Linked DNA regions of Homo sapiens. The protein of the gene in region 2 interacts with the protein of the main gene of each other region in a pairwise test. Each region holds a gene or a part of one and is shown on either strand. Other genes may lie near its edges. The genes, in order: HELLS, SERTAD2, PARVG and ZNF524.

Region 1 (7,022 bases), on a different chromosome or scaffold from region 2:
TTTCGGTCTCTCATGGCTATTTCAAATGACGTGATTACCACAGGATGAATCTGCAAAGTCCCTTTCCGTTTGTAAATATTTCTTACCAATTTTTGACGTTCCTCCTGGGTTCCATGATATAACATTGTAGGGATCTGAAAAATTTTATATTGATTTTTATCAGACTTAAGAACAAAATGTAAATATTGACTATTTAGAAAATATAAATCATTCTGAGGGAAAAAATATAATTTTAAAAAATTTTATTTCTATTTTTCTATAGCAAAATAAGCCAAGCAATTCTAACAAATCATTGAACTATTATGGGAGAAAATGAAAAAAAAACAAACAAAAAAACAAAGTCAGGCCCAGCACAATGGCTCACACCTATAATCTCAACACTTTGGGAAGCCAAGGCAAGCCGATCTCTAAAGTCCAGTAGTTCGAGATCAACCTGAGCAACATGGAGAAATCCCATCTCTACAAAAAATACAAAAATTAGCTGGTGTGGTGGTACGCACCCGTAGTGCCAGCTACTCACCCAGTGGAGTGAGATGGGAGGTTCACATGAGCTACTCAGGCGTGTGAGATAGCAGGCTCACATGAGCCTGGGAGGTGAAGGCCACAGTGAGCCAGAATGACGCCACTGCACTCCAGCCTGAGCAACAGAGCAACATCCTGTCTGAAGACAAAAAAAAAGGCATAAAAACAAATAGACGGGCCAGGTGGGATGGCTCATACCTGTAATCCCCAGCACTTTGGGAAGCTGAGGCGGGCAGACCACCTGAGGTCGGGAGTTCCAGACCAGCCTGACCAACATGGAGAAACCCCGTCACTACTAAAAATACAAAATTAGCCAGGCGTGGTGGCGCACGCCCGTAATCCCAGCTACCTGGGAGGCTGAGACAGGAGAATCGCTTGAACCCGGGAGGCGGAGGTTGCACTGAGCCGAGATCGTGCCATTGCACTCCAGCCTGGGCAACAACAGTGAAACTCTGTCATACACACACACACACACACACACACACACACACACACACACACAAACACAACCCCCCCCCCAACAAAAAACCTACAAATACATAAAACACATATAGGCTGGGCGCAGTGGCTCACACCTGTAATCCCACCACTGTGGGAGGCCAAGGTGGGCGGATCACAAGGTCAGGAGATAGAGGCCATCTTGGCCAACATGGTGAAATCCTGTCTCTACCAAAATACAAAAAATTAGCCTGGCCTTGTGGTGTGCGCCTGTAGTCCCAGCTACTACACTCCAGCATGGTGACAGAGACAGACTCCATTTCAAAATAAATAAATAAATAATATATATATAAATATATAAAATGAGACAGATGGTGATACTACGTCTAGAATATATATATTTCTCATAAGGCAAAAATGTGCAGAAGGGCTGGGCCCGGGAGGTACAGTGGCTCACGTCTATAATCCCAGTACTTTGAGAGGCCAAAGTGGGCAGATCTCTTCAGGCCAGGAGTTCAAGACCAGCCTGGCCAACATGGCAAGACATCGTCTCTACTAAAAACATAAAATTAGCTGGGCATGGTGGCACATGCTTGTAATCCCAGCTACTCCGGTGGCTCAGGCACAAGAATTGCTTCATCATGGGAGGCAGAGATTGCAGTGAACCAAGACTGCATCACTGCCCTCCAGCCTGGGTAACAGAGACTCCATTTCAAAAAAAAAAAAAAAAAAAAAAATTGCAGAAGGTAACAAGTACAGAAAAAACAGAAAACTCTCTTCTTAGCCTTTTGGCAAAGATCAAGTGAAGAACAAGCAGAATTTTTAATAAAATCTCTACCTAAGTCTGTCTCAGTCGAATCAAATTACCAATGCACTGAAAATCATTCAGGAATATTTTAGGAAAGATGTCAGGGATTTCCAAAACCTATACTATATAAATTTAAATTAGGGTATTGTGCAGATTGAGTAAGTCAAATCAGACAAAATATTTATACAGAAACCAATATAATTATAAGAGTTCTACAATTTAATTCCTACTACAACAAAGCATAAGAAAACATGTAAAATTATAATTTTAACATAAGGAAGCATGTCTTACATCTGGTGTAAATCTTTTGAATTCAGCCATCCAGTTAGGAAGTGTAGACAAAGGGCCACAGACAAGAAAAGGTCCTGGTACTCCTCTCTGAATCATCAATGCAATAGTAGCAATGCACTGAACTGTCTTACCCAATCCCATTTCATCTGCTAAAATGCCATTAATTCCATTTTCCCAAAGCATCTGGACAAAATAATAGATACTGTATTTAAACTTGGATATAAACAACTACAGGATTACAATATTTTATTTCTTCTCTTTAAAAAATCACACCCAAAGATGAGAATTATGTTAAAGCTGATATATTCACACCATAAATTATAACAACACTGGAAAGTCCTTTATCAAAGCCATAAAAGTGCTGGAAGCCATTAACAAGGTAATTTCTACTTCTAAAAATTCAGGGTAAAGAAATCAGAAAGCAAGTATCCACATACAAATGTATAATAGTGAAACATGATAGAAATGACTCAAGTTGTGGTACCTCAAATCATTAGGCTACTATAGAAATAAAACCAGTATCTTGTATTAAAAATTCCAATTCATTACCCTAAGCCATTCCATGCCTTCTACTTGGTACCATCGCATCACTCCTCCAGTGAAGTGCTTTGGTTGTTGAAAAGGTACTGGCTGACCATTACACTTCCGGACTGGGTCAAAAAAGAATTTAGTATTCTGCCTAACCGTTTCAGACAATCTATCTTTAATTATACTATTCGAATCTTTATTTTTCTGAAGATCTTCCACACAGAGATTAGTAGAGGAGGAGTTTTCATCCTGTAGAGAAAAAAAGTTTAATAAGATGTGTTATACAAAATGCTGCTGTATGCCACCATTTATCAGAAAATGCAACTAACAAAATCTACTGAGTCCTATAATCATTAAGTATAGAAGACTAAGATCACACCTGGATTAAAAAACTGGAGACATCGCCATCCCTCTACAAATGAAAAGCTACTAAAAAAAAAAATAACAGGCTGCCACAGTGGCTAATCCTACAATCACAGCACTTTGGGAAGCTGAGGCAGGAGGATCACCTGAGTCCAGGTATCCAAGACAACCCTGGACAACATGGCGAAACCCTGTGTCTACTAAAAATACAAAAAATTAGCTGGGTGTGGTTGCACGCAACTGCCTGTATCCCAGCTACTCGGGAGGCTGAGGATCACTTAAACCCAGGAAGTCAAGGCTGCAGTGAGCCATGAACACAGCCACTGCACTCCAGCCTGGGTGACAGAAGACTCCATCTCAAAAAATAAAATAAAATAAAATAAAATAAAATATAAAAATCTGAGAATAACCCTTACAAATTAAAATCAGGCACATACTTTTGAAAAGATCATTAGAATTGTATCTCTCTTCCAAACTTCTAATATTGTGATACTCAATAATTTATTAAACTGTTACACAGAAAATACAGTACGCATAAATAAGACGGGCAAAAGATATTAACAGATACTTTACAAAAGAAAACATACAGGCCGGGCATGGTGGCTCACGCCTGTAATCCCAGCATTTTGGGAGGCCAAGGCAGGCAGATCATGAGGTCAAGTGATCAAAACCATCCTGGCCAAAATGGTGACACACTGTCTCTACTAAAAATACAAAAATTAGCTGAACATGGTGGCATGAGCCTGTTGTCCCAGCTACTTGGGAGGCTGAGGCAGGAGAATCGCTTGAACCTGGGAGGCAGAGTTTACAGTGAGCCGAGATCGTGCCATTGCACTCCAGCCTGGGCGACAGAGTGACACTCCATCTCAAAAAAGAAAAAAAAAGAAAGAAAACATAGTTATCAAAGAACATAAAAATATACTCTACTTCAGTAGTAATTAGGAAAATGCAAGTTAAAAACCACACAAGTTACCATTTCTCATCTAATAAAATGGCTGAAATTAAAAAGACTATCAAATGCTGACAATAATGTAAGCTGGAGTTTTCAAACATTGCTGGCGAGAGAATAAAATGATGTGTTTACTTTGGGGGGGAAAATCTGTACTTTCTTATGAACACACATTTGCCACGTAACACAACAATACCATTCCCAGGTACACAGGCAGAAAGTATGAAAACATGTCTACACATGGACTTGTGTGCAAATTATCATAGCAACCTTACTCATAAAAGTCACAAACTGCAAACAACCCAAATGCCCATCAATAAGGGGATGGATGAGAAAATTGTAACATTCATTCAACAGAATACTAGTCAATAAGAAGAAACCGGTTACTAATATGCTCAACAACATAAATGAGTATCACAGACATGTTGAGTGGAAAGGAAATAATAAGCCATCCTATAAAAGGTGTAAAAAGTGGCCTCCTCTGGGTTTGGGGGTGGAAAGACATAGAAGAGATCCCTTTACAATGGAAATGTTCTATACCTTGATTTGGATGGTGGTTACACAAGTGTATGCAAGTGTCGAAATTCATTAAAATACCATACTTAACAACTATTTCTTACTGACTGTAAGTTATAAAATGAAGCCAAAATCCCATAGTAAATTACAGAAGATTACATCTAGACTTTATCTTAAAAATCCAACTAAATGTTTATCTAACTAAATCTTTAAAAATCCAACTAAACTGCACCCATAAACCAGTCCTTAATAACTTAACAAAGAATAAAAACCAAGACACTTTTACAATATAAATTTTGGACAAAATTATATGACCAAATAGATTATCTCTCATTTTATAAACATAACATTAATTTCCCAAAGGCCTAAAAATCTTTAATATGTAAATTAACTACCTGAAGTTCATATCCATTCATGAATATTTTCATGTCATGATTATTTTGCTTCCCTAGGCAACCTTGTAATTTTAAGTACTTGAACAATAAAAAGTCAGATAACAAGGAACCTCTCTACATGAAATGGGCTAAGTGAAGAGGTGGCTCGGAAATCAAGCCTTCTCAAACAGAACTTTTAAGAAACTTAAAAAATCTTTAAGGTCTGAAGCAAGATTAAGGCATCCCTCACAGCTTCCATAAGATGATTCACGGTTTATATCCACATGGTTACGAGCACTTGTATCACTGCCAGATTCACAAGTTAAAAGCAACATTGCTAGACCCATAAATTAACATTTATACATCAAGAATCATGCAATAAAACAACTAACTAAAGTTGATACATAAAAAAGAAGAATGTTGGATATGGAAGAAGTGAATACATAGGTATTTTTTTTTAAAGCAAAGAAACAGGATAATAGTGAGAAGAACGTATACTGCTGATTAAAGAAAAAGGACTAGTAACTGAGGAGTAAATATGACTTCTAAACTTAATCTTACATTATAAATTTCTTACCTCATTCTCCTTTTTATTTTTTTTAGCCACAGACAAAATTTCCTAGTAGTTTGAGAAAACAAAAACAAATTAATAATGTATGAAGTTCATTTATTTATTTATTCAACAAGCATTTATTCTGTGCTCATTTTGCCAGGAAATGAGGATGAGATTCTCAAGATAAAACTAGTAGCCTTCAGGCAGAAATAAGCCTATAGACATTACTGGCTCATAATATTTCATAACATTCTAGGCTAATTTGGGAACACTTATACAATGGGATATTTCATCAAATACAGTGATTTTCCAGCTTTTCTTTCTTTTAATCTGAGTAGATTAAGTACAAATTCACACATGGCAACAAACCTCTAGTCCTGGGGTCAGCAAACTACAGCCTGTAGACCAACTCCAGCTAAGCGAATACACAGGTATTTTTTTAAAAGCAAAGAAATGGGATAAATTGGAACAAAGTCAGCCTCACTTGTTTACGGTTTGTCTATGGCTGCTTTCAAGCAACAACAGCAGAGTACAGGGTTGAGTAGTTGCCCACAAAACTACTCAAAAGCTAAAAATATTTACTATCTGGCTATTTACAGAAAAAGTTTGCCAAACCATGTTACAGCCCACTTTAGGCCTCTGTGGATAGACATCTGAGTTTGCATTCCTGGGTAAGAGGCAAAGACAGAAAAAATTAAAAATACAGAATAAAGTGCTCTGATTTTGAAGTACCTACTAGATGCTGCTGGTAGGGAGACAAACAATACCCGAGTATGTCACTGGATGACTTAGCAAATAATTATCTTACATAAAATTATCTAAAAAGTTGTCACCAGGCTTCATCATTCAAGATAGTGAGGGTAGATTTCAAGCAGAGAGAATATAGAAGGCATAGGGGATGAAGTAGATTCAAAACAGCAATATCAAATTTAAGATTCATAGAAGAGTAACAGGACATGTAAGTGGCTGACACACACACATATATATACATGGGAATATATGTATATCGTGTGTGTATGAAGTATTATGTATGTATAGATATTCATATTATAAGGCTGAGGCTAAAAGGATTTTATACCAGGAACTGATAAAAGCTGTCCTGTAAAATGACTAGATAAAATGAAACTTTTGAAAGAACAATTTGGAAATAAATCAAAATCTATAAATACCACCAATGAAGTATTCTTATTAAAAATCAAGCATGGGCAACATGGTGAGATCCCATCTCTACAAAAAATATAAATGTTGGCTGGGCTTGGTGGTACACGCCTGTAGTCCCAGCTACTCAGGAGGATGAGGTGGGAGGATTGCTTGAGCCCAGCAATCAGAGGTTCAATGAGCCGAGATGGCACCACTGCACTCCACCCTGGGCAACAGAGAAAGATCTTGTCTCCCAAAAAAAAATAAAAATAAAAAAAAAAATAAAAAAACACCTTAATCACAAACTTCCGTATTTAACTTATAGTTACTATAGTTAACAGGAAACACAAGAGGCAGAGAAATCATGGGGATACAATCAGTAAAGTCTAGAATGTGGGGAATTATACAGAATTACTCATTTTCTTCAACAAATAATGTTTCTTAAAAAAGATGAGAGACACTCTAGATCTAAAAGAGACCCAAGATACGCATTAATCAAACACAATTTATGTAACTTTTTCGGATCCTGATTTGAACCAA
Region 2 (7,471 bases):
GTGCTGATCCTAAATCCGTGACCAGTCAATTAAGAAACTAAAAAGTCATAGATTTATCATGGTTAAGTAATTAATGTGTACAAGATCTTCAAACTCCTAGTCCAGGACTTTTCCTGTCACCAGGCTGGTTCCTGGGGGCAAGAAAGGTCTGTGCAATTTCTAACATTCATTGAAATTTTCTGTGGAAGCTAGAAGTGTGCTCAGTGCCTTGAGAAGAGTGGGAACTTCTCAAGAATGATGGATGGCTTATAGACAGGAATAAATACATAGTCGATGCGTAGAGGCAATGTGTGTTGTGTAGGGAGCTGGGGATGGGAGATGTTTCTGAGAAGTGACCACCAGTCTTAGTGGAGTAGTGTCCCTACAGGAGGGAACCCTGGAGTTGTCAGAGTCACCAAGAAGGTTCTTTGCATTTTGATAGACTGCACAAGGCTTTTGAAGATTCAGTGGAAAATGGAATAGGAAGGAAGCTGATGCCTAACAGAAGCCATCTTCTCCAGTAATAGTTCGAAGGGACTGACCCCAAGTGCTAGAAAAAAAGGAAATGGTTTTAAAAGCATTTTCTTTAAATATTGCCATGAAGATTGTGTTTCAGGTTTAGATTTACATATTGTCAGATTTTTAAAAGAGAAAAAGGTATATCTTTAACAGACAAGTGAAACCTCCCTCAGAAGGTAAGAAGCAGTCGTTGCAAAGCAGTTCAATGTAACAACATGGAAAGCTTTGCAAAGGGGCCTTCACTGGAGCTGTAGTTCTGCTTTTATGAATTGTGACTTCAGGGAGGAGCAGAAAAAAACCATGACAAAAGCAGGTGGAAGAAGAGATGGAGAAAAGTTTGCAGAAGTAGAGGAGTTCACTTGCTGCTTCAATAGAATTGTTTTAAATTGTTAGTGGCTGAAAAGGACTGAATCTGCCTGTGCCATCTTTGCGAGAGTATTTACTTTTCCAAATCATTGTATCCTCTATTGACTCCTTGCTAATCAGTTAGGTGATGTGACTTCCAGAACTTTATTTTGAAGACTTATTCCAATATTCATTTATCCGAATGATGAGTCCACAGTTAGGATCTCCGTATTTTCCATGAAAAGCTTATTTAGCCTAGCTGGCTCTATACAATTCATTTAATAACTGAAACATTTATCTTTTTTGCCATAAAACCAAGACCAATATTTGCAAGGTATATAGATGGATGATCATTACTGGCATTTCAGGTGGAACCTGAAAGATAAAAATTTAATAAAAGCAAAGGAAAAATGAAATTAAGTTCAAAACCTGTTGTAAAGTCTTTGTTTCTCAGTTTATATACCCAGTTTGCCCCTTGTGTTTTTGGTGTGTGCTAATTAAGTGCCAAAAGTGGCCTTCAGTTAGTGCACTAGTGTACTAGTCTATAAGATGTGAGGGCACAGAAACTTTCAAAGGAGAAGCAGTGAAGTGTAAACTAGTACCCAGAACTACAAAATGATGCCGAGAAGTACTTCTCTGAAATTAAACTCAGGAGCATTTTTAAAATTTACCATCACAGTTCTATACTTATAAAAGAAATGTTTCTTTTCTCCCTAAACAGATATGTTCCTGGTAGTTAAATGTGGATGACTAGCCTAATTTCTTATAACTGTTCTAAAGTTATGTTATATGAAAGTGAGAGGCAGATCTTCTAAATTCTGGATGAGGCCCTCAGAGTAGGATTATTTTAAATGGGATTTTGTTTTGAGACAAGATCTCACCTACATTGGAATGCAGTGGTGTGGTCATTGCTCACTGCAACCTTGAACTCCTGGGCTCAAACAATCCTCCCATCTCAGCCTCCTTAGTAGCTAAGACTATAGGCATGCATCACCATGCAGGGCTGATTTTTTCATTTTTTGTGGCGATGGGGGTGTCGCTATGTTGGCCAGAATGGTCAACTCCTGGCCTCAAGTGATCCTTCTATCTAGGCCTCCCAAATTGCTGGGATTACAGGTGTGAGCCACTGCACCCAGCCCTTAAATGGGCTTTTAAATCTCCCAAAGAGTGAGAACAAAATTTACATATTCACTAAACACTGCTTATTCAATGACATGATTTGAAATAATATTTTATTGAATAAATATTTCAAATCATGTCATTGCATACTGAAGGGAGCTGACTTCAGAAGTGTGGAAAGTGCCTTTCCTTATCCTCATAGACTTGAATTTCTAGGGCTGGGTAGAGATTGCTGTCCTGGCCTATGTGTGGCTCAGCCTTGGGGTAGGGGGTTGCATAAGGGGAGGGAGAGGGTTAACCAGCTGGTGTTAACCACATTGGCAGCTGTTGAAACTGCCAGCTCACTTTAACTTCTTGGTCAAAGATGCCAGATTCTAAAAGTGGGGGAAGTGGGAGCTATTTGTAATGTGTACATTGATAAGATGTTACAGCCTTCAGAGGTATAAAGAGATGGAAACTATTTCACTCCAAAAACGCAGGTTGCTGGTCTCGTTAAGAGCGCAAACCTTTGTTTGAGCAGGTACAGAATACAGACCTTATGGACTTCAGCAGAATCCTGTCTATCCTAGTGACACAAAATTGTCACTTTGACTTAAATCCTGTTATTTTATACAGAAACACTGCATTTGGTGTAATCTATTTGCTAGAAAATATCCAAGTGTCACAAAAGTTCTGCAAGTGTAACTTCCTGCTTACTTTAATTCAAGAATAGCAGTTTAAATTCACAAATAGCAGTTTAAATTCACCTTAAATTCAACAGAGCTAATGCCTCTGGCCTCCTCTACAAAGATATCACAGGAAGAGATTATTGCAGCTTCTATTTCAATGGCTTTTCCTTAAAGTGAGCACTGAAAGTATAAGTGAGTGGGTGGTTAGGAAACTGTTAGTAGTTAATGCCCTCTCTAAACTGCAGAACTCTGGAAATGAAAAATATCTTCGCTTCACAGCAAAATGTTTGAATGTTATGCCACTCAGGCGCAAACTGAGCAAGACCTGCAGAGGGCCGGTGAGCACAGCTTCCATAATATGTCATTTTGAATGCCATTATAATGAGACTTTGCAAAGATATCCACAAATAATTAGCTTTTGGCTTAGGTTATACTGTATAAGACTTTAATTATACTGAGGGTCCAGTAAAAACCTTTTCCATCCTCCTTAAAGATAAAACAAGAAGCGTTGTCTCCTCTATCAACATTTCAGCACAAGTTTAATTTCGATGAGATCATCAATTTGATTGATAACAAATCATTACAGAACAGTTTAAACAAGTCTAAATTTCTCTTGATGTTAACGACTTACAATCGCCTTTATGTTAGGTCTTAAAGCTTTATTATTCTTAAATACAACTAGTATAGTGGACCATTAAACTCCAAAGTGATCTGAAATGATATTGATTGGGGTGGCAGCCAAAATTTTAAGGTGCCTGCCTGCATTGCCTTTTACATCTTGACGCTGAATGCACGTGTAATTTTTAAAATAATCATTAATTTTCCAGTGGAACCATCTATCTGGCCTCTTTCCCTAGTGCTCTTAAATTCTCACCATTTGGGCATACACACATTCTCTTCCAACTAGTATAAATTTCCCTGGTAAATTTAAGTAGTTCCAAGCATAAGCTTACTCCACGGGAGGGAAAGGCTATCAATGTGAAACTTGTGGGCAGAGGACTGCGCCTCCGACCTGGCTGCGTCTCCTAGCTTGGCTTCCCTCCTGCCGGGTCTGCACCGAGCCCCGGCCGGCCCCGAAGGATGCAACTCGTTCGGTCCGGCTCCCAAAGTGCCGTGGACTTGGTGACCCACTTCTCGTGTCGGGCTGAGGCCACGCGGGCAAGGGACTTTTTCTGTCCCCGGCTCACGGCTGGAGCCCCCATCCTGCCGTTCGGACCAGTGCGGGCCTCGGAGGAGTGTCCCGCAGCGGACCCCCGCCCAGGAACCCCTGCAGGCAGCGAGACGGGCGCCCGGGCCAGCTCTCTGCCCCTCGCCCCCCGCGGGGACCCTGCCCGCCCCGCTGACCGGCCCCACGTTGCCAAATAGCTCAAATGCTTGTCATATTTGCGGTCGCGCGGCTCCGCGGGCTGTGCACGCGCTGCACTCGCCGCCGCCTTTGTCACCAGCCGCTTCGTCATTCGCCTGAGCACTTCTAGAGTGTGTAGGGGGCGTTACTAGTGGCAGTGGTGGTCCTCGGGCCGGAGTGTCTCCTTCTGTCTCCCCTCCTCTTTCAGCCCGTCCTTACGAGAAAATCAGGGGCGCGCCGGCCCGGCAGGGAGCTGGGGGCGGCGCTGCCACCAGGCGCCCACTGCGCCCCGCCGCCCCTTCCTGCTCCTCCTGCGGCCGCGGCCGGCCGCGGCCGGCCCCGGCCTTTATCGCGCCTCCCGGGACCGCCGGGGAGAGGCGGGCCGGGGCGGGGCCGGCGGGGGCGGGGTCGGGCGGCCAGGGGCGGGGCCTGCGGCGCCGGGGCCCGGAGCTCGCGGGAGGCTCGCGGGCCGCACGTCACTCCTGCACGGCGAGTGCTGGAGCACGACGTACCGCTCGCTCGGTCAGGGCGCCCCCTCCGCCCGCCTCCTGCTTCCTCCTCCGCTGCCTGCCGCCGCCGCCTCCACCATTGTATAATGCTCGGGGCGCGCAGGCAGAGAACGGCGGAGTCTTAGCTTCAGCCTCGCCTGCTGCCCGCTCCCCGGCGCCACCCTCGGGCCCCTGGAGCGGGGCACTCCGCATGGAGCGGGAGTAGCTGAGGAGTGGGCGGAAACCCCTCCTGATGCGTTAGTTCCCAGGTGGAGCTGCATGTGGTAAGTTCTCCCGGCGTCGGGCTGGAGGGGATCCGCGGGCGCGGGGGGCTCCGGGTGGATGGGGGGCCGGTGTTGGGACTCGGCCAGGGCTGGGAGAGCCCGGAGGGCGGAGGAGGGGCCGGGCGCCGCCGCGGGAGGGAGCCGGGGACGGAGCAGGTACGGGAGGAGCGCTCCCTCCCGCGGCCCCGGTCCGGGCCCCGCGCTCTCGGACCCCCGGCGCCTGCGGGCTGAGCCGCTGGGGGGCAGGGCCGGGGTCAGGAGGGGGTCGGGAGCTCGGAGAGCCGAGCGGCGGGCGGGGGCGCCTGGAGCTGTCGCCTCTACAGCTGGGATGTGTGTGCGCGTTGTGGCGGTTGTGTTGTTGTGAACGTGCGAGACTTTTTTTAAGGCTCGGATTGCTGGCGCGAAGGCTGCTTCACTTTTGAGTTCCGTGGCCGGGTTTGCATCCAACTTACTGTAGTGCGTTTTTGTGAATTTCCCGGTGTTTTTTTTAATAATGTTGAAAACCTTCCTCTCCACCCTCTTTTCTTTCGTCCATGCCCAAATGAATTGATTTGGGATCTACATGTATATTAAACTTAACGTCTCGTTGGTTTTTAAGTTAGAAATCTACAAGTCATCTTCGTGGTAACCGCCTATGACTGAAAGGGAGGGGGCTGAGGGGAGCCAGCTGTCCCAAGCCCTAGACTTTGTACCAGTAAGAGAGGGGGTGTCGTCACAGGGCCACTACATGGACAGAAAATCGTATTTTGTTTTGTTTTCTTGGCTATAAGTTACCTTTAGCAGAAGTGGTAGTAATAGATTGCGATGGGAGTCGAGTTTTAGGTTTAGTTTCTAAGTTTCACGAAAATATCAGGTATAGTTTGCATTGGAATAACTTTTTGCTTGCAAGCCGAGTCGTTTCAGGAGGTAGAAAGTAAGTTTTCACAGACACTGAATGGGGAGGACAGTCAGCAGAGTGAGACAGCCAGCCTCAGACCACAGCAGTTTTTATTTGAATCGAATTGGGCAGCCTCAGTTGGGCTTAGGGTAGAGAGTACATGTTTTCAAGCTTTGTTCATGAAATACGCTTTTTGATTTCCCAATGTATGTTAAGAAATATCCATAATGTGTGTAAAGAGGCTAGAAGTTGTAGTCACCAGGATTCCTGAGGCCCTAAGTGTTCACAGTAGCTTTTTGTAGTTAGAGACTAGTCCCTGACAAGAGTGAAGTGGGCTTTGGGCTTCGCTCCGCCCCTGAAGGACCGTCCACCTGAGAGCGTCTGGGCTGCTTGGCCGATGGGGGTTGGGGGTAGTTGCTCAGCTCAGCAGAAGGCATGTCTCACCCTGGCAGCTCCCATCCCTCCCCCTTTTTATAGCAGTCTATTCTGATATGAGTGTGCTAGGGTGTGCTGTGAAGATGAAAATATCCATCCTAAGATCCCAACTTCTGGAGTGAACAAGAATAGTTTGTTTGTGGATCTCTGCTTTTCTGTTTATTTTTTCAGGGTTTTTTTTCTTTTTATTTAAAAGAGACAAATGTTTAAAAGTTTTCCTTTAGCTTCATTGACTTCTTTAGAGGGGTATTATATGTTAATATAAAATTGTTTATGTCGTTCATTAAGTTTGGAATCCTTTAACAGTTTTTTTTTTTTACTTGTTTCACCCCCTAATTAAAATATACATAACCATGTTGTTCTCAGATGAGAAATCTTATTTTGGATTTGACATCCCCCAACCCCCTTTTTCCTTAACACCCGGCCCTTTTCCTTACTTCATTCAGACAGGTAAGGGAGAGGACTCACATTTTGTAAAGCCAACCAAGTGTATGTGTGACAGGAGGTGTCCTAGGGAACGGTTTTATTGTCAGGCGAATGTCACAGCGTCTTAGGTAACAGCTGCTCAAGCTTGTTTCCCTTGAAGAACTAAGAGAAGGATATTAATTCAGATTTAGAAAATCTTTACACTTCTGTTTGCTGAATTGTCCCTCTTTAAAGCTTTTCTATTTAATTGAGAAGCTAAAATATGAATTTTGCCCAGTTGCTACACACTGAATTATTACTGATAATGAGCCTAGTAAAATAGCACATATTTTGATATTTTAAAACTCATTCAAATTTGTGTGGCGACTGATAGCTTATGGTATCTGCTATTTTAAACAGGGTTCCAATGGCAGAGTAAGTTACAACACTACTTTAGAAAGGCACACACATGCATCACACACAAAAAACATTACAAAACGTATGAAGGCAGTTTGAAGATGTTCGAATGCAAATACATAAAAATTTCTATCAACTTGCAGCATGCTACTTTTATTATCAGTGTCCAATTATACTACAAGTTTACCCTCAGACAAAATATTTTACATTTTAGTAACTAAGAAAGGTGAAAGCTGGAACAGAAACTTTGAGAGGTTTCTTTTGCTGTGGTTTCTTGTTAAAAAGCACAGAAAAAAAAGTATGAAGCTTTATTTTATATTTCACATATATCAACAGAATCAAGACCACTTTGTCAATATTACCTGTGGAAAAAGCTATATATAGATAGGCGTATTTGGGGCCATGAACTTTAATTCACTCATAGAATTTTTAAAGCTTCTTGGCAACAGAAATTTTGTATTCACTGTCATGGCATATCCTATAGGAGATAGCTCTAGTTGCAATAGTTACTTGGTGCGTGAGAGAGAGAGCAAGCGCAGGCGCCGTCTCTGATTACTGAGTCCAAAGATCAGTTGTGTACTGAAGGCACC
Region 3 (7,022 bases), on a different chromosome or scaffold from region 2:
TCTGAAACCCATTATTTTACCAAGGGAGAGATACAGATAGAACAGGTAGAATGTAAATCTCAGAAATCATCCTGTTTATACCCACATAAAATATAATAAAACTACAAATCTCTCACTTATTTCATGCCGGCAGCGTGCCAGGTAATATACCAAACACGTGGGGCTCACCAGCTCATGTATCACTCACAATTCTACCAAGTTGCTATCTTGTACCCACTTTATAAGAAGAAGAGCCTGAGGTTCAGAGAAGTCCAGTAACTCACCCAAGGTCACACAGCAAATGTGGAGGGTTCTCAGCAGACCCCAGGGCCCATAAGTGGTGGAGGCAGGAGGGAAATGTGTGTCTGTCTGGCTACAGAGCGTGATACTTCCACCCTGCCATGCTGCCACACCATATCACACACAAACTTCTCACGTGGCCACCATGTGAGGTGGTTATAAGCACTAACTCTGGCCCCAGCTGCCTGGGTTCAAATCCCAGGTCCACTACTTATCACTGTGTGACTTTAGACAAGTTAATTAACCTCTCTGTGCCTTAACATCCTCCTCTGTAAGTGGGGTAGTACAGTTCCCACTTCAGAGGATTATGGAGAGGATTCAATGAGTTAACATGGAAAGCATTTTGCCCTGGGACTGGCACATAGTGAGGGCTTTATTGGTTTTAGCTACTAGGCATGGGAGTACATTAACCCCTCCCTCCCCAGCCAATGCCCATCCAGAGTCTCTCTGAGAGGTCAGCAGCTCTGGCTACGATCTTCATGAGCCAACTGGTCCATCTGGGACCAGACTCCCTCCCCACCCCAGACCCCAGCACCCAGCAGAACCCAGGTGGCCAGATGCCTACGTCATGTCCCATTCAGGCCACTGGCATCCAGCAGACTCCATGCCCACTCTGCAGGCCCCGGGCTGGCAGCCGGTCTGCTACTGTGCACCCCCTGCTCCCCTGCAGTGTGGGAAGCCTACAGGGACACAGCTTCACTGTGGAAAGCCACAGCCCATGGTGGGTGCTGACCCCCTGAGATTCTGCTCCTGCTCCTGGGAAAATTCGACTTAAGTCAGCCGGGGGAGGGGCTGGGCTCCTCAGGGTGCTTGTGAGAGACATGGAGCCTGCAGACGGCTGGGCTGCGCTGTCACCTACGCCTGGCACATGGGACAAATCTAATAAATTCTGTTTGGGCGAACACAACCACGCAGGGAAGACTCATATGCTTCAAGTCTTGGCATCAGCTAGTCTGAGATTAATTATAAAATAAAATTATAACAATGAGAAGCAGTGACAGCCGAGGTGACTCCAGCTTTGTGAAGTGTTCCCACACCTCCACCCCCGGGATCCCACCATGTCCCTGGTGACCACTGCTGCCTGCCAGCAACAGTCCCACCGGGGAGGGGGACCCTAAGGCTCCAAGAGGTGATGCAACCCCCACCACACAGCAGGTTCCCAGGGCCTGCAGAACCCTCTTTCCTTCCTACGGCCAGTGGCCCTGCCCTGCCTGGGGACGCCGCAGCTCAGTCCCTACCTGGGTGTCCAGATTCTGCACAGACAGGCCCAGGCGGTCCAGCTTCTGGTTGACAAAGTTCACGATGGCCTAACCAGGGAAGAACAAGGGCCTAGCACACAGCAGGTGTGATGGGAGGACCCGTGATTCCCTCCTACAGCGCAGGTGGGCAGTGGGTGGGGTGGGCAGCCTGAGAGCCGCTGAGAGCTTTGATCTCTCCTACCTCTTTCACTGCGTTCACTTTCTCCGGAGCCAGCTTAAATAATTCATCAAAGACGTCCTCTGCAGACACAGATCCAATAAACACCTCATTACGATGCTATTATCTTTGTGCCAAACAGGGAATTTTTTTTTTCACAAAAGTTTCTTAGAATAACCAGTCCAGAGGGAGCTGTCGTTTTACATCATGGTTCTCAAATAAAACAGACCTGGATTTGAGTCACTGCTCTCCTGGCCGTGTGGCCCCAGGGGAGTCACCGTCTCTCTCTGTGCCTCCCTAGCTGGGGTTGTTGCAGAGATGGAATTCCATAGCAGATAACACACATGGCCCCATGGCACAGTGACTGGGCACACAGTAGGACTTCATAAACAGCCACTCTTCCTGCAGCTGACACCTGTTACTACATCTGCACAGCTGCATCCCTTTATCTGCCAGCTGGCACTCCCTCCTCCCAGGGCCCTACTCCACTCCCCAGGGCCACGGGAGCTGCCACAGGTGGGTGATCAGGGTCCATGAGTCTCCTCCCCTTGGTTTTAAATTGGCTGAGTGAGGACTGCTCCCTGCTGCCTCCCCCCGCCCCCAAGAGTGTCTGAACCTGCTGCCTGCAAAAGGCCAGCTCTTCAGCAACTCAGTCACTCCCTTGGGGTCTGGGAACAGCGGCTCAGGCCCTGGGGTCCAGCCTCGGGTGCCCATGTCCTCAGGCTAATGCCCTTTGTGCACTAGCTGGATTCCTGCTATTTGCAGCTAACATACCTCCCATGGGGACACTGGTCCTTGGGCACCAAATACACAGACTGGCCTGAGTTTGCTGTGGCTTCTGCCACTCAGCAGCTGTGTGACTCTAAGCAAGTCACAGCACCTCTCTCTGTTTCAGTTCCCTTGTTAGTGAAGGGGGAAAAGTAGCACCAAATAGCATCATGCACGTTAAAATGCCCCTGCTCTGTGTCCTTTCTTCACCCTCTGACACCCACTTCTCATGCTGCCCCCTGCCCAAAATACTGCTCCCTGGGCAACCCCTCATGTCCTCAGGCTGCCCCTCCTGCTACATACACAGATCCTCAGCCAGCCCTCCTTGCCCCTCCTTTCTCCTTTCTCCCCAAACTCCGCCTTCCTCAGCCCCCATTCTCAGAAGCTCCTGGCAGGTTATTATCTCTACCTCTGCAGGGAAGGTGCCCCTCATAGCATCCCTGCCCACATAGCTATGTGTCTAAGTGGGGAGGGTATAGGGAGGAAAAATAGTGTTAGGATGGATGGATATGGGTGAATACATAGGTGGTTGGATGGGTAGATAGATGAATGGGTGGATGAATAGGTGGGTAGGTGGATAGATGAATGGATGGATGGATAGGTGTGTGGGTGGATGGATGGATAGATGGATGGATGGATGGATGAATATATGGATAGGTGGGTGTATGGATGGATGGATGGATAGATGATGGATGGGTAGGCGGATGGATGAATGGAAGCATGAATGGATGGATGGAGGGATGGATGGATGGATGAATGCGTGGATAGGTGGGTGGGTGGATGGATGGATGGATGGATGGATAGGTTGATGGATGGATAGGTGGATGGATGGATGGACAGGTGATGGATGGGTAGGTGGATGGATGAATGGAGGCATGAATGGATGGATGGAGGGATGGATAAATGGATGGGTGGGTGGATAGATGAATGGAAGAATGGGTTGATGGATGCATGGGTGTATGAATGGATGGATGGATAGGTGGGTGGGTGGATAAGTGGGTAAGTAGATAGATGAATGGAAGAAAGGATGGATCAATAGATGGATAAATAGATTAATGGATGGGAAGGGGAAGAGCTGGCCAGACCAGTGACAAAGGAATGGATGCATGAAAGAAGTAACAACTAGAACAATCAACTGATTGGTGAACAGCTCTGTCAGAAGAGCAGAAGCCACATTATTGCCCACTCACTATTGAGCACTGCCCACATGCTGAACACACTCATACATTATCTCCTTTAACCCTCACTGCCAGTTTAAAAGGTGAGTGCCCTTTTATAGATGAGGAAACTGAGGCACGGACAAGTTAAGATACTTGCCCAAACTTAAGTGGCTAATGAGTGGGAACACTGGTGTTTGAACCCAGGCCACTGACTCCAGAGCCCACACATTTAACAGACTCCACCATCACTGCCCATGTGAATTATAAATCTCTCTCCCCACAGGAACAGTATCATGAGAAGGAGCAGCCAGCTCCATGGATGGACAGACAGAAAGAGGGACAAATGAATAAGAATGAGGCTTGAGATACAAACAGCAAGTGACAGGGAAATGAGAGAATGCTCAGCAATTAACCCTGCATTAAGACTTGTCTGCATTAACACGCATCAGATAGGAACAGATTTCCAAAAATGATGAAAGTACTCACTTGGAGGCTCGTCCTTGTCTGTGCTGTGCAGTGGGTGGAAAAAGCAAACAAATGGTTAAAAAAAAAACACCCCGCAAACCTACAATTTCTCAATATGACAAGCCTCAGTGCTGGCAAGGTTGCAAAGAAACTGGCATGCTTGTGGTTTTCCTGGCAGCTTTGTAGGTAGGGCAGATAGCAGAGAAGGTCTTTGTGGGAAGCAAAGGGCAGAAACAGGTTCATGCCCTTCCCTGAGGCTTCCACACCTAGAAACATTTGGACTTTGCTGGTTTTGTTGTTCGTGTTCTGTTCTGAGGGAGATACATCACACACATCATAAAGTGCACAAATCGTAAGCTCACAGCTTGTGCGTTTTACACATACACACCTGTGTGATCACCCCCACTTACATGCTGCAGAACCTCCCAGCACCCCCCGTGTTCTCCCTTCCATCCTCTCCCTCCCTACGCTGACCACAGCTGCGATTTCTCTTGCCATCTGTTGGTTTTGCCTGTCCTGGAAGTTCATGGAAATGAAACCATACTGCGTGTCCTCTTTTGGGTCTGGCTTCTTTCACTCCATTTTTATTGTTTTTGAACAATTTTTCTTCTTCTTTTTTTTTTGGTCACGTTTTTAGATCCACCTCTACCCCATAGAAGAGAAGTTCTGTAGGTCCAGGGCAGGCCAAGTCTCTCTAACCACAGCCCTCCAGAAGAAAGCTGGGGCCCACGGGGCAGAGCCCAGCAGCCTGTGACAGAGACCTGGGCTCAGCACAGAGGCCAAGGCTGCCAGGAGAGACAGACACCATGTGCTGTCCACACAGCTCCAGCCCCAGCCAAGCCTTCAGAGGATGGCAGCCCCACCTGGCCAGCATCTTGGCTGCATCCCTGTGAGAGATCGTGAGTTAGCGCCACACAGAAGCCAGCAACGGTGGACCTGTTGGCAGCCTGTGCAGCCCCTGGGCCCATCCCTCTCCAGGCCCCACCTGTTCTGCTCCATGGGGAGCAGGACAGCCATGCTCCCAGTGGGCGGGGAGCAAGATGGCCAGCCCTAGTGGGTGGGGAACAGTATGGCCAGCCCCAGTGGGCAGGGAGCAGGATGGCCACACCCCCGGTGGGCAGGGAGCAGTATGGCCAGCCCCAGTGGGCAGGGAGCAGGATGGTCAACCCCAGTAGGTGGGGAGCAGGTGGCCATGCCCAGTGGGCAGGAGGTAGGATGGCCACTCCCCAGAGGGCAGGGAACAGGATGGCCATGCCCCAGTGGGCAGGGAGCAGGATGGCCACACCCCCCAGTGGGTGGGGAGTAAGACAGCCACACCCCCAAAGTGGGCGGGGAACAAGACAGTCACACCCTAAAGTGGGCAGGCAGCAAGACGGCCAGCCCCTGGCCATGCAGGGGCCTCTAACTCTTACAGCTTTGCAAGGAAAGAGGAACATCCTGCTCACACTAGAGAGACAGATTCACTGGGCCCTGTACCCCAAACCCAGGGGCCCCCACCCTAGAAAACAAAGCAGGGTGGCTGGGAGGGGCCAGGCAGGGACCTGGTTGGAGGCTAGAAAGGGGTCCTGTGTGCTGCCGTGGGATTGAGAGGTCAGCGCAGCATTTTCGGGTCTGAGAGAAAGCCACAGAATGTGAGGGCCCTTCCCACAAAGGTCAGGCAGATCTGCCCTGGCCCCCACCCTGCCCCCATCCACCGCTGTGAGCCCCAGCCCCACCCATGGGCCCTCATCCTTCCCTCACCTGTATTCAGTGAGCTGTTCCACCAACTTCTCTGACTTCAGACCACTTTTGGTGCTCTAAGAAAAATAAAGGGGGAAGAAATTAAATAATCCAGAAAACTCTGGGGCCCAAAGAAGCCCCAGTGATCCGTTTGCTCTGTATCATCCCTCCTCAGGACAGCCTCTGGCTTAATTGTCTTTCTTCCCCAGGAGTCTTGAGGTTGGGGATGTGTCTGCCTCACTCCCCAAGGCATCCCCAGAGTCTCACAGTGGGAGGAGGGCAGTATCAATGAGCATGTGACTATGAACAAATGAATGGTGAAGGAGTGAATCAATGAAGTCACTTCTGATTTATGTTGGCAGTATAGACCAAGCCACACAACTGCTTGGTAGGGAATTATAATCAATGGTTTTAAAAAACAGTAGAAAGCCGGGTGTGGTGGCTCACGCCTGTAATCCCAGCACTTTAGGAGACTAAGACAGGTGGATGGCTTGAGCTCAGGAGTTCAAGACCAGCCTGGGCAACACGGTGAAACCCCATCTCTGCCAAAAATACAAAAAATTAGCCAGGCACAGTGTCTCAAATCTGTAGTCCCAGCTACTTGGGAGGCTGAGGTGGGAGGATCACTTGAGCTGGAGAGGCAGAAGTTGCAGTGAGCCAAGATTGTACCACTGCATTCCAGCCTGAGCAATAGAGCAAGACGCCATCTCAAAAAAAAAAAAAAAAAAAAAAAAAAATAGAAATGACTCTGACTGGGTGTGGCCAAACTTGGCTTATTCTCTTGGGGCGAGTCAGAGGCAAGCCCTCACACACAAAGCCCCTATGCATGAGGGACCCGAGGCTGGGGTGGGGTGGGGGCGGTCATGAGAAGCAAAGAGCTGGTGGGGCCCCCTATTGTGATGCTCAGAGTCTGTCTGGAGAGGGAAGTCGTGGATTCCTGGGTATTAACCGCAGCACAGGCAGGCCGCATGCTAGACAGAACATCTGAGGGTGGGGAAACCCGGCAAGGTTCCTAGAAAGAGAACAGGGCACTGTCACAGCCATCGGTAATCTCACAGGAGACAGTACCCTCATGGTGAGAGCATTGGTTTTGCTCAGGGCGTGAAGGCTCCCCGTGGCAATGAACGGACGGCCACGCATGGCTCAGGGATATGGCCTGACAGCCCCTGGCCTCAGCCTCTGCCAGCCAGATGCCCTCTGCTGAGGTCAAGTGGA
Region 4 (7,581 bases), on a different chromosome or scaffold from region 2:
AGGTTCCCCCCAAAACCATTCTTTGGCGAGCACCACGCTCATGAGGCACAGGAAGTGGGGTCCTCTCCAATTCCCCGCACTCCCGACAGGACGGTGTAGCCGAGGAAGAACATTTGAAGGCAGGAGAGGATGGCATCCCGGCACGGAACACACACAGGCAGCCAGCAGGCAGAGATTTATTTCCACAGCCCCTGCCTCCAAGGGTCTGTTAGTCTGGGGGAGGGGGGCTGAAGGCAGCTGGACCCCAAAGTTTAGGTCTCCACCCTCCACCTGCTCCCACAACGGGAAGACCACCGGAAACAAGGGTGTCCCGGCCCCCTGGCTCAGGCCCAGCACCAGCCAAACTCCCTGCTCTAAACCTGGCCCAGGGAGCGATGGCCGGGGGTGTGGGTCAGGCCGGCTCCCCTTTCCCCTCTGTCTCCTCCTCCTCCTCGGCCCCTGCTGTGGCCGGGATGCCCTCCTCGTCCCACGGCGGTTCAGACCCTGGATCTGGTGCACACAGGGGTACCCCCATGGCCTCCGGGTGCTTGCGCTTCGCATGGCGCCGGAGCGTGTTGGCCTCTGTAAAGCGCAGCCGGCAGATGGGGCACTGGTACGGGCGCTCCCCCGAGTGCACGCGGTGGTGGTGCGCCAGCTCGCCCGCCTCGCGGAAGCGGCGGGGGCACAGCGGGCAGCGGAAGGGCCGCAGGCCGGCATGGATGTTGCAGTGCCGCCGCAGGTGGCTGGAGCGCTTGAAGGTCTTGCCGCAAACCTTGCACTGGTGCGGCTTCAGCTCTGAGTGCGAGATGCTGTGGCGCTCCAGGTCGGAGAGGTAGGGGAAGGCCCGCAGGCACACCGGGCAGAAGTGTGGGGCCTTCCTGGGGCCAGAGCCCTCAGGCCCAGCCGCTGAACCTTCAGAGACCGTATAGGGCACACCCTGATCATCGATCAGGAGGAGGTCGCTCCCGCCACTGCTGCCTACTGGGGCTGTCACCCCCTGCACCTGCACCAGTGGGGGCTCCTGCCCTGACTTGGGGGGGCGGCCCCGCTTGCGAGGGAGGGAGGCCTTGAGTGTCCGATTTGAGGAGGTGGCTCCCCCAGGACGACGGCCTCGGCGGCCCCGGGGAACAGGAGGAGATAAGGCCAGAGGTTTCTCTTCCTCCCCGGGCAAAGGCGAAGGCAACGGGTCTGGGCTGGGGGTGTCCATTGAGCAGTGGGGGGCTTGGGTCTGGGCACTGGAGCCAGCTAAGAGGAGAGAGGGGCAGAGTCAGTGCTCACAGGGTCTAGAGCACCCCTGTGTCCCCCAACACCTCGCCCATCCCTCTCTCCAAGTCTCTTGACAAAGGTGTGTTTGACATTCATCCAGATACACAATTTTAGCTATGCTGGTGGGTAAAACAGTGAGATGATCTTGTATCAGCTGATAAACAGGCACTTCCCTGAGCTCCACCAGACATCCCTATGCCTCCCTAACTCTCCTTCTGGATCTAGAAGTTCAAGATCAACATGAGCAACACCCCTCCCCACCTCCCCACAAAAAAAAACCTTCCAGAGAGGATAGAGTCCAACTGAGAGTGCAGACCAGTATTGTGATCCTTGAAACGGAGAGCCCATCAAACTCCAGAGCCATAGAGGCCTCACGAATGCTCTCATCCCTCCCTGCTGACTGGCAGAAGTGGGGAAGGGGTTCCAGAGTGGAAAAAAGGGACTGGTCCCAGGTGATATTTGACCCTGATTCCTGGATGAGGAAACATATCTGCGATGTTAAGAGCCTGGGCCCTGGAGTCAAGACATCATTCGTTCAAATCTTTACTCTCTGCGTGGCCTTGGGCAAGGTGTTCGCTTCTCTAAGCCTTAATCAAGACTTTTGCAAAATGGGACACATAGTTCTACGTACTTGCCCAGACATGCCATGAGCATAATACCCACAAAGTGTTCATACACAGAAGCTTTCAGGACACATTAGCCATTGTTATCAGGAGCAGCTAAGCCTCACATCAACCCTCTGAATAGGGCATATCTGTCCCATTTTGCAGATGGGGAAACTGAGGCACAGGAAAGCCAAGTCAGTTGCCTAAGTTCCTCTGCCAGTAAATGGCAGGGCCAAAACTGGAAACAGGTCTTGTGACCCGAATGTCCCAGAGAATGGAGAACAAATAAACCCAAGGAGGAAAGGGGACATTACGAGGGCTCAGTCCTGGGTTTGAATTCAGCTCTGCCTATAACTAGCAATTGACTTTGCCAGTTTCCTCCTCTGAAAAGTGAATAAACCAGGGTTGTCAGGAGAATCGAATAAGACAGTGGGCTTTAAAATGCCCCTCGAACACTGCCTGGTGCACAGTAAGCACTCAATAAACTTCACCAACGCCACCACCATCTTCCCGGCGCCCACTCAGATACTGGGAGCATGGGATTGGGGTGTAACGGAGGGGAAGGGGAGGCACAGGTGCAGCTGGAAGCAGGTGCTGCAGGTGCCCCCCTGCACCCCCCCCTCCCCTTTAACAGCCACATAGACTGCTGTCCAGAGAGGAGCAACCACCTTTCCATACGGTTCGCTCCCACGGGGTAGCCTAGTCTAGGAGTCTGGTCTTTGGAACGGTGGAAAGGGGGAGACTGGTCCCCCGACCCTCCCCGTCCCCTCGCCCCGGTACTGACGCGCCCATCGGCCCCCGAGCTGCGAAGCCCAAGCGCGGGGCGGGCCCTGCGGGGGCGACGGCCAATGAGCGGCGCCGGGTAAGCGGGCGGCGGGGGCTGCCAGGAAGGGGGTCTGCGCGCGCGCGCCCGGACGGCTTCGCGGGGCGCGAGCGCGGGAGCAGGAACAGGTGTTGGAGGCGCGCTCCGGGAGCGCGCGGCCCGGCCTCCCCTACCCCCACACCCCCCCTCCCGCCTGCGCCCCCCGCCTCTCGGGTACCTCATTTGCATGTCGCCGGGGCTCGCGAGTGTGCGCGCGCGCGGGGGCAACGGGGCCGGCGCGTGGGAAGGGGAGGGGGTGAGGGGGCCCTGCCCCTCGGCGGCGGCGAGGCGGGGGCGGCGGCGCGCGGTGCCGGCCCCGCCCCTCGGAGAAGCGCCGGGCCCCTCCCTTCCTGCCCTTCCCGCCCGCCTGCGCGCCCGCGGGAAACAAAGGGGACTCGCTGGGTCCTAACGACCGGTCGCGGCCACGCCCGGAAGCCGCGCCTGCGCACCGGCGGCCCTGGTGTGTCCCCAGTGGGAAATAACCCAGCACCACATCCCCAACCACCTCGAAACGCCTTTCCTCTCACAAAGCCCACAGTCGGGTGACCCAAAGACAGATACCGAATGATGAGGAGCGGGAAAATGGCTGCCCAGTGCCCGTAATTAACATGGCACCGGACAGGCTTCGAAGCCCATGGAGTGCTAAGTGGATAAGATGGTGCCGGTCTTTTCCAGCTCTGTATTGCAGTTGGCGCACTTCGCTTTCTTTTTTTTTCCCTAGTCCAACTGTACATCCTAATCGGAGGAGTCCGAGGCTGTGAAAAAGAAATAGTATCTGCTCTCATTTACGTTAGCATCGCCTAGTGTCGCCACGGAGAAGCCCCCTCGCTCTCAGCTCCTTGCCCTTAGTCTGTATGGCGCCGTGGGTGTCCCTAAGCCCCGCCCCTTCCCGCTGCCCTCACCCAAGATGGCGCGGGCCTGGCTTCTTCAACCTCCAGGGCTGGGAAAGGAAAGGGAAAGAGGGAGAAGGGCGGGGATGAGGAAGGGGAGCCAAGAGGGCGGGAGAAAGGGGGAGTACGGCGGGGGAAGGGAGCTGAGGCGGAAGTCGAGGGGCCCCCCGGGTGGAAGTGACGCTGCCCCCGCTGCCCAAAATGTCGGCGCCCAGAGGGAGGTGTAAGTAATTAAAGAGGAAAGCCGACGGACTTCCCCGGCCTCCCGGGGCCGCCCCGGGTCTCCAGGACCAACGCTCCGTACGAGCGAGGTGGACTCGCCTGGCCCCGGGGCCTGCCCGACCTGCCCCCCAACCGGGCGCCCAGGGCTGCACCTTTTAGGGGCAGGGGGAGGGGCACAAAAGGCCGGCTCTCGGGGCCTGGGGCCTGGAGCAGACTGGGCAAGTGGGGGGGCCCGCTCCTCAGGCTGCGGGGTGGAGGAGGAGGCGGGGCCTAGTGGCTGCTGGGGCGGAGCAAGGGCTGGGAGGAGCCTGAGTTGGGCGGAGCTTAGAGTGGAAGTGGGAGGGGCGTGGAGGAGGGAGAGTCTGGATAGAAAATGGGAGGGTCTTAGGCAAAGAGGTGGGGTTTGATAAAGGGGCGTGGCTCAGAAGGAATGGTGGGTAGGCCCTGGATTGAGGGGTGGAAGGAAACTCATTGAGGCTGGTTGGGTAAAGGGAGCCCAGGAAGCAGGAGGGAGGAGTTTAGAGTAGAAGGGATGGAGTTTGTCTGGGGTGTGGCTTAGAGAAGTAGGTAGGCCTAGTGAGGGGGGTGGAGTTTAAGGGTGTAATTTGGAGGGGTTTAATGCAACTATCAGGTCTTTATAATGAATGTGGAAAGGACTTGCAGGGGATGGGAATAGACTTCGTAGAGAAGGCCTGAGAAGGTGACGGGAGTCCAGTGGAGAGTCTTAGAAAGGATGTGGCTTCTTTAAAGGAAAAATTGGGTGGAGTTTTGGAAGTGGGTCTTAGTGGACCCGAGAGGGGCTTAGATAAGTCAAATAACTTAGCAATCATGGTAGGACTTAAGGAGGAATCCAGGAGGAACTTACGGGATAATAGTCATCCAAACAGCTTACTTGTTGCGTCTTTGCTGTGCACCAGCTTAAGTGGGCACGTAGCATTTATTGCCACAATTTTACTTAATTCTCGCCACCACTCCATGAGGTAGGTACTACTATTCCCATTTTACAGATGAAGAATTTTTATTATCTGATGTTACAGGAGTAATTCTGGTCTCCCTGCAAGGATGACTCCAGTGTGCTTAGCCCCAAATCTTTGCCCTCCCATTCGCTAAGTGGTCATCCTGGAAGAGGAGTGGGAGGAGCTTAGAGGGGAGTGGGAGGGCCTTTTGGAAGGAAAAGGGCTTGGCAAAGAATACAAGATCCTTAGGGAACATTGTGGGGGACTTTGAAGGGAGTAGGTGGGACTTAAGGAAGAGTGGGAGAGGCTTAAATTACAGTGGGAGGGGCACAGAGAGCAGTGGCCGCGCATTGGCGAAGAGCGAGGAGAGGCTTAAAAACACTCCGTGGAGTGAGGAGACTATGAAGTGATTAGGAAGATTTTGCCACAGGCGTGGAGCCGCGAGAGAAGGGTTTCTAAGAGAGTAGGAGGATTTTAAAGAACAATGAGAGTGGCTTAGAGAGGTGGGCAGTGGGAGGGTCTCCCAGGGGACAGGTGGTGGGTCTGGGAACCTGGGAGGAGAGAGCTGATGGGGAGCCGACCCCCTCACCTGCTCCTCTGTCTCCCCACTACTCCAGAGAGAGCCCCCACATACCACTGTATTCCCCGCCACCATGGATGACGTCCCCGCCCCAACCCCTGCACCAGCACCGCCCGCCGCTGCCGCCCCCAGGGTCCCGTTTCACTGCAGTGAATGTGGCAAGAGCTTCCGCTACCGCTCAGACCTGCGGCGCCACTTTGCCCGGCACACAGCGCTCAAGCCCCACGCATGTCCGCGCTGCGGCAAGGGTTTCAAGCACAGCTTCAACCTAGCCAACCACCTGCGCTCGCACACCGGGGAGCGGCCCTACCGCTGCTCTGCCTGCCCCAAGGGGTTCCGCGACTCCACCGGCCTGCTGCACCACCAGGTGAGTCCCACAGGCCGGCCCTAGGCTGGCCTCCCTGGTCAGGACTACGGTGGGATCCCGCGCCCCACTGTACTCTGGGCAAAAGGAAGCTGGCCCAAGGCCTAGGCGCCCGCCTCCTCCCATTAGAAAATGTCCCTCCCTCCCTACCAAAGCACCCTGACCCTTGAAAGCATGCGCTATTTCTCATTCAGTCACCAGCAACCCACGAACTGGAACATTCATAGTAAATTTCCCCATCTATAGGCTCCTGCCCGCCCCATCTCCCTGCCAATACCCCGCGTGCACGCACCAGCATCTGCAATCTAGTGTTTATCCTTTCCTTCCTTACCGTTTTAAGACTTAGGTTTATCAGGTGTATACTTAATTCCTTTATTCATTGATTATCAGTTATATACTTAATTCCTTTATTCATTGACTATCAGCTTTCCCTGCACCAAACGGCTGTGTTGCCAAGGCAAAAGCAAATTCCATGCCTTCAGAAAACTTACTTTCTTTTGGAGGTGGTCAGTAGCCAAGTAGACAAGAAGCAAGAAAGCAAGTATGCTGGCAAGAATGTTCTGGAAAAAGATAGGAGGGAAATTTTAAGAAACAAAAAAATACTGGCCAGGCGCAGTGGCTCACACCTGTAATCCCAGCACTTTGGGAGGCCGAGGTGGGCAGATCATGAGGTCAAGAGATCGAGACCATCCTGGACAACATGGTGAAACTCTGTCTCTACTAAAAATACAAAAATTAGCCAGGCGTGTTGGCATGCACCTGTAATCCCAGCTACTTGGGAGGCTGAGGCAGGAGAATCGCCTGGACCCGGGAGGCAGAGGTTGCAGTGAGGTGAGATTGCACCATTGCACTCTAACCTGGGCGACAGAGCGAGACTCAGTCTCCAAACAAACAAACAAACAAAAAATACAAATCAATGTGTGAGAGTAAAGAGAGGAGAGCTATGGGCTACTTCAGACAGGTGGGGAAGGTTAGGGCAGGTGATACCTGAGCCAACCTGCAGTGTGAGGAATCCTCCCTGGGAAGAGCATTCCAGGCAGCAGGAACAGCAAGTGCAAAGGCCCTGAGGAAGGAAGGAGTGTGCTGTGTTCCAGGAAGCGATGGGAGACTGTGGGGTTGGGGTGGAAGGAGGTAAGGTGAAAGATGGGACGGGCTAGGTCACACTCTGTCTATGTGCCAGACACTTGCACAACCAGGGTGAAGAAAACCAGGCATCTACCGATGGTCTTTCACACTTGGCTGTCCTCTCTGTCCCCATGCATCTGCCTTGGTTCAGGACTTCACATCCTGAATGTTGGCCCCGGCTTTCTCAGTGGTCTCCCTCCTTCCTGTCTCTCTCCCTCACATCCAGTCTCTGCATCTATCACAGAGTGACCAGGTGACCCCTGCTTAAATCCCTTGATCCTTAGGATGAAAGGGGAGCTCCTTAGCTTGATGCAACAATTGACAGTCCCCTGAGGGGCCTCACCCCCACCCACCAGTAGGTTGTGATTCAACTGAACCATTTCAGGAGCACCTACTGTATTTAGATACAGTGCTAGGCTCTCTGGGGGAAAAAAAATAGCTAAGGGAACAAAACAGATACAGTCCACCCTTTGTATGGCCTCGAGTCAAATGTGGGAGATGTGAACTGAACAACTAGGTTAATCAATGTTAGGCTGCAGCCGAGACATCTGAGGATGGAGGATAACCATATTCTGAGGCTAATGCAAGAGAGAGCTGAAGCAGTCTGGATCGGGGATGGGGTCAGGGATGGTTTTCCCGAGAAAAAGGTGAGGAATGATCTGCCTCTGGGGTCCGAGGCTTTCCGGATCCAGGGAACAAAATGTGTACTTTCAAGGAAGCAAAGCAGGCTTT

What was found.
Region 1: the proteins of SERTAD2 (region 2) and HELLS interact in binary tests that used the Homo sapiens proteins (3 or more experiments, as listed by UniProt).
Region 3: the proteins of SERTAD2 (region 2) and PARVG interact in binary tests that used the Homo sapiens proteins (3 or more experiments, as listed by UniProt).
Region 4: the proteins of SERTAD2 (region 2) and ZNF524 interact in binary tests that used the Homo sapiens proteins (3 or more experiments, as listed by UniProt).

Annotation. Positions count from the first base shown.
Region 1 is NC_000010.11:94,569,774-94,576,795, reverse strand, and holds part of HELLS (lymphoid-specific helicase), read right to left. Parts: exon of another isoform or gene 5,409-7,022; coding exon 5,367-5,408; exon of another isoform or gene 2,837-5,366; coding exon 2,609-2,836; intron 2,243-2,608; coding exon 2,060-2,242; intron 135-2,059; coding exon 1-134. UniProt on the Homo sapiens protein: Plays an essential role in normal development and survival. Involved in regulation of the expansion or survival of lymphoid cells. Required for de novo or maintenance DNA methylation. May control silencing of the imprinted CDKN1C gene through DNA methylation.
Region 2 is NC_000002.12:64,650,896-64,658,366, reverse strand, and holds the start of SERTAD2 (SERTA domain-containing protein 2), read left to right. Parts: upstream 1-4,453; 5' UTR 4,454-4,747; intron 4,748-7,471. Other genes in the region: uncharacterized protein LOC124907776, read right to left, coding at 3,656-4,087. UniProt on the Homo sapiens protein: Acts at E2F-responsive promoters as coregulator to integrate signals provided by PHD- and/or bromodomain-containing transcription factors.
Region 3 is NC_000022.11:44,190,911-44,197,932, reverse strand, and holds part of PARVG (gamma-parvin), read right to left. Parts: intron 5,885-7,022; coding exon 5,829-5,884; intron 4,133-5,828; coding exon 4,110-4,132; intron 1,779-4,109; coding exon 1,720-1,778; intron 1,587-1,719; coding exon 1,518-1,586; intron 1-1,517. UniProt on the Homo sapiens protein: Plays a role with ILK in promoting the cell adhesion and spreading of leukocytes.
Region 4 is NC_000019.10:55,595,718-55,603,298, reverse strand, and holds ZNF524 (zinc finger protein 524), read right to left. Parts: upstream 3,012-7,581; 5' UTR 2,891-3,011; intron 1,225-2,890; coding exon of another isoform or gene 1,187-1,224; coding exon 392-1,186; 3' UTR 161-391; downstream 1-160. Other genes in the region: FIZ1 (flt3-interacting zinc finger protein 1), read left to right, coding at 5,434-5,727.